Linked DNA regions of Homo sapiens: region 2 is linked to region 1. Evidence: fine-mapped expression QTL. Tissue or cell type: tibial nerve. Region 1 holds a variant in brackets; the other region holds the start of a gene. All regions are shown on one strand. Distances are between the middles of the regions.

What was found. PIP is the estimated chance that this variant, and not a neighbour inherited with it, causes the effect.
Region 2: it holds the start of ASPG, and the variant in region 1 is fine-mapped to the expression of ASPG in tibial nerve (GTEx, PIP above 0.99).

What each region holds. Positions count from the first base shown.
Region 1 is chr14:104,120,174-104,122,925 of GRCh38, reverse strand. No RefSeq gene overlaps it. Among named protein-coding and RNA genes, the nearest start is that of MIR203B, 4.0 kb to the right of the region's middle. The variant C/T (reference allele first, on the strand shown) is at 1,393.
Region 2 is chr14:104,084,313-104,087,064 of GRCh38, reverse strand. It overlaps ASPG (asparaginase), which reads right to left and starts at 1,365. Exons shown (of 16, transcript NM_001080464.3): 1 at 1,213-1,365. The coding sequence starts at 1,294.

The DNA of each region.
Region 1 (2,752 bases):
TGGGTAACATGACAAAACCCCATGTCTACAAAAACTACAAAAATTAGCCAGGCATGGTGGCACACACCTGTAGTCCCAGCTACTTCAGGGGCTGAGGTGGAAGGATTGCTTGAGCCTGGCAGGTAGAAGTTGTGGTGAGTGGAGATCGTGCCACTGCACTCCAATGTGGGAAACAGACTCAGACTCGTCAAAAAAAGAAAGAAAAGAAAAGAAAAAGAAAGAAAAGAAGAAAGAAAGAAGGAAGGAAAGAAAGAAAGAAGGAAAGAAAGAAAGAGAGAGAGGGAGAGAGAGAAAGAAAGAAAGAAAGAAAGAAAGAAAGAAAGAAAGAAAGAAAGAAAGAAAGAAAGAGAAAGAAAGAAGGAGGGAGGGGAGGGGAGGGAAGAGAAGGTAAGGGAAGGGAATTCTAAATAATCCAAATGTCAAAGAAAAATTCAAAACGGGAATTAGCAAGTATCTTAAAGTGAATGAACCTGAAAGCACACTACATCTACATTTGTATAATGGAGCTAAAGCAGTGCTTAGACGGAAATTATAGCAATAAAATGACTACATTAGAAAAGATGAAAGGTCATCAGTGACCTCAGCTTCTACCTTAAGAAAAAGAAGTTGAGGAGGTGTTGGTCAAATGATTCAAAATTTCAGTTAGGAGGAATAGGTTCTAGAGATCTATTGTATAACATGGTAACTATAGTTAATAACAATGTATTGTACTTTTGAAAATTGCTAAGAAAGTGTTCTCACCACAAAAAAAGATAAGTAGGTAAAGTAATGCATATATTGATTAGCTTGATTTAGGCATTCCATAATTATATGTATATCAAAACAACATGTTGTACATGATAAATATATACAATTTTATATGTCAAATAAATAAAACATTTAAAAAAGAAACTAGAAAAAGGGAGCAAATAAAAGTCAAAGTCAGGAGAAGAAAGGAAATAATAAAGATCAGAGTGGAAATCATTGAGATAGAAAACAGAAAAACAATAGAGAAAATCAATAAAACCAAAAGCTGGTTCTTTCCCAAAATTGATAAAAATTATAAACCTCTATCCAGATGGATCAAGAAAAAAAGAGAAAACACATAATTAATATTAAGAATGAGAAATGGTTCATCACCACAGTCTACAGATATTCAAAGATAATAATGGAATAGTATGCATAACTTTATACCAATAAATTCAACATTAGATTAAATAAATCCTGTAAAAGAAACAATCACTAAAACTCACTCAAGAAGAAATAGATATGCTGAATGTTCCTATATCTAGGAAATAAGTTGAATTTGGAGTTCTTTCCAACAAAGAAAACTCCAGGGGTGGGAGGAGTTGGGGAAGTAAAGAGGGATCACCAAGGGCTGGATGAACCCTGCAGGTAGCTGTGTTTGGTCAA[C/T]GGTTTATCATCTTGACTGTGGTCATGGTTTCACAGATGTGCATATATATGTCAAGAGTCATCAAATTGTACACTGTAAACCTGTGCACTTTACTGTAGGTCAGTGGCATTTCAATAAACCCAAGAAAAATAGTGACACCCCCGACAAAGACTGGCGGGCTCAAGGCAACTCAGCTTGTATGTGTGCCCTCCCAGCACAACTTTGCTCCCCGGGCAGCCTCAGAACCACGGAAAGATACTCAGAAAGCCAGTCACAGTGACCCCACAGCCCTGTGACAGATGTGCTGTCCCATGGGGCTTATCTAGTCACCCAGGAAGGAGCCATCATCTGTCCTCCCTCTGATGATTCTCAACTGCAAATATGTTGCCATGGCTTGAGTGCTTGTGACCCTCCAAAATTCATGTTGAAACTTCATCCCCAGTGCAACAGGATGAAGAGCTGATGCCTTCAGCAGCTGAGGAGGCCATGAGTGCTCCACCCTCATGGGTAGGATTTGTGCCTTATAAAAGGGCATGAGGGGGCGAGTTTGCCCTTCCCATCCTTTCTGCTGTTCATCCCTTCTGTCGTGTGAGGACATGGTGTCCCTCCCCTCCAGAGCACCCACGCAAGGCACCAACTTGGAAGCAGAGACTGAGACCTCACAAGCTATTGAACCTGCCAGCACCTTGATCTTAGACTTCCAGCCTCCAGATCCGAAGAAATAAATTTCTCGTGGTTCCTTATAAATTATCCATCTCAGAGGTTTTGTTACAGCAGCACAAATGGCCTGAGACCTGCATATACAATTAGATTCCATGAGCCTCGAGTGGGCACCCCCAGACCCTGGCCTGGCAGGTTACCTGTTCAGCGGGCGCTATGGACTCCTCTGGGGAAGGACAGAGAGGCTAAGATGCAAATTCTACTCTAGGCTCCTGCTCCCAGGGAGTAGAGGCCAGGCACCACCCATAGCTGCAGATTCAGGACCTGTCTCCCCTTCCCCCAGCCTGTCTCTCTTCCTGAGGTCTCTCGCCTAAGACAGCTGCTGTCAGCCTTGGGCATTTATCAGGCTCGCCTGGGAACTTGGTGAAGACCCAGATCCCTGCCACCCATCCTACTCACTGAGCCTGGGCCTCTGCAGTGAGTCAGAACCCCTGCCTTCACATACTGGTTTAGCTACTTTAACAGAGACCAAAATAACACTGGCTTTAAAAGGCAGAAGGTTCCTTTCTCTTGTGGAAAAGACAAGCTGTTCAGCTGTCCAAGTGGGTAGGGCAGCGTGTACATGAGCTGGTCCCACGTAGGGTGATCAGCAGTCCCAGTTTGCCCCAGACTCAGAAGATTCCAAGAACGTTTCGGTGCCAAATCAGGAAACACGCAGGC
Region 2 (2,752 bases), 36 kb after region 1:
CCGACAGAGTGCTGGTGGCTTCTGAGCAGCCACTTCAGCAGAAAGGGGTGGCCAGGAGGGGCAGCTGCCAGGGAACAGGCCGTGAGAGGGGGTGGGGATAGGAGGGGCGGGGAAGTGGTTGGCAGATGGGCAAGGGACAAGAGAATGTTCTGGTCATGCCAGGGGAGGCCCTGGGCTCTGGCAGAGCCGGAGAGGGTCCCAGCCGTCCCAGGAGAGAGAGCTGCGCTGGACACAAGCAGGAGTGTGGGGAGGGGCCAGGGCAGCAGGGAGTGGGAGGAGGAGGAGTGGAAAGGGCTCCTGAGGGAAAGGCAGGCAGTGGCCCATGGAGGGTCGCAAACAGGTTCAAGACGGGGCGAGGGGGCTGTCCTGGCCCCAAGGGAGGCCCCACATCACAGCAGAGCCCATCTGGGGGCCCCAGGCAGTGTCCTGCCCTCCTGGGGAACACCCAGGCATTCTGGAGGCTCCAGTGCAACCGTCCTCTCCCCATCCCGGTGGCCTCAGGCTCCCCAAGCTACCATCCTTCCTGTGCCCAGCCCAGGCTGGCAGCACTGTGCTGGAGTACCACAGAGCTCGGTGCCTGTCCCAGGCCCTGACCCCACCCAGGCAGAACTCAGTCCAGACGCAATCGCTGGTCTCTGGTCAACCAGGTCCACACAGGGGCAGAGGAAGCAGGGCTCTGAGGCCACCTCGGGTGTGAACACGTGCGTCCCCGCAGATGCCAGGTAGCCCCAGTATCGTGCCAACCACTGCTGCCTGACCAGGACCCCAGGGGACGGGGACACCCTCCTGGGTGTCGCAGTTGAGGGGTCCTCGCAGCCTCCTAAGCCTTCTCCAGGGCAGCCTCCTAAGCCTTCTGTGTCCAGAGCAGGAGCGGCAGGCCAATGCCCTGGGGCCCTCCCGCCCCATATTCCAGGACTTCAGGACGCTGGCCCTCAGGGGCGCAGCGGCAGCACAGGGGGCCTGGCCCCAGGGTCGCAGGGCGCTCCCGGGAGCACCGCGACGGCGAGAACCCACCGCAATCTCCTCTGTCCAGGTCGGGGCTCCATGCGTGGGGACGCCGGTGGCCGGAACCGGAGGAGAGCGACCTCAGCCCGCACCCCCCATCCAGGCGCGGATTTGACTCCCCAACGACCCCCGTGGGTGCAGGAGGGTCCGAGGCTCCCGGTCGCGGCCAGGTCCAGAGGCCTACCCCGCCCAGGGTCTCGGACTCACCGCCGAGCTCACTCCGCATGCCAATGGTGCCGCCGGTGTAGACGGCCAGCAGCCTCCGCTCGGGCCCCACCGCGCGCGCCATGCCGGACCGGGGACCACGGGAGTGGACGGGGGTGTGCAGCGGGGACGCAGGGCCTGCGGGACTCAGGGACTGCGCGGAGGAGGCCCGGGGCGCCGGGGGCAGCCTGGGAGGGCGGGGCCGGCGGGGGCACCCACGGGGAGGGGGCGGGAGTGGAGTCTGCCCGGGAGGGTGGGAGGCCCCGCGGAGGCGGGCGGGGGCAGGACCTGGGGGCGGGGTGGGTCCCGGGGACTGTCCAGGGTCGGAGAGAGAGGCGGGGCCTGGCGGGGTGGGGGCGGGGCCTGGCGGGGTGCGGGGCGGGGCCTGGCGGGGTGCGGGGCGGGGCCTGGCGGGGTGCGGGGCGGGGCCTGGCGGGGTGCGGGGCGGGGCGCGGCCTTGGAAACGTGTAGGAAGAGGTGAGGTCTGTGAGGGCGGCAGGGGGAGCTCCTGCCTGGGCAGGAGATTGGCTGGGGCCTGCTTGGGGCTGGGGAGCGCCTGTCCAGGGACTAGGGGGCAGCCAGAAAGGCAGCGACAGGGGTGGGGCGGGTCCTGAGCCATCCTGCGGCCATTGGCCCTCCGTGGCGGCCCTGGGTGTTTGAGTAGCTGTGACATGTGGTGCCTGGCAGACCGTAGTGCCCGAGGCCCTCCACGACCTGAGCACAGAGGGGGCTCCGTGTCCTGTCAAGCAGCCTCCACAGCCCCGGGGCTCCAAGGCCGGCATTGCTGCCCAGGCCCTGCTGTCCCTCCTTTGGATGGCCAGAGGCAGGCAGAGCTGGACCAGCCCCTCCACATGTGCCCATTCACACACCATCCAAGAGAAGAGCCCGAGGGGCCCCCAAGGGCTGGAGCGGGACAGAGCAGGAGTATGGCCTTCTTGGACAAACACCGCCATTTTAGGTTCCCTTTGATTAAAAAGCTGCCTAAATCCAGCCCAAAACACATCAGCCCAATAGCTAATGTCAGCACGACCGTAAACCACAAATAACATCTCCAATCAGAAACATGCCAACCTCGAGATAACCTCCCCTCCGACCAGAGACATTCCAAGCCCGCAATAAACTTTCCCTCACATAGAAACATTCCGAGCCTGCGATAAGCTCCCCACTTCCTAAACCCTTAAAGATCCTTAGTCTGTAGGAGAGATGGCTCCTGACCAAAATCGGCCAGAAGTCCCTTTCAGGTTTATTCTCCAAAATAAACCTGCCTTTGTTGAGCCGCTTTTCATGTTTCTTTCCTCTTTCTTTAACTCCTACAGAGCCCACCCTCCTTCACTCCCATGAGAGCCCAGGAGGGCAGGGCACTGGCGGGTGCAGGGTCCCAGGAGGGTCCCAAGCTGCAGGCTTGCTCCCAGGTGGACAGAAGATCCGCGGCCTCCTCGTCTCCTGGCACCTTGACTGCCTGGGGCACTGATGCACTTTGGTGGGAAACTGTGTGTTGCCCCCAGAAGGCACCAGCATTTGACACTGATTCCATAATAAAAAT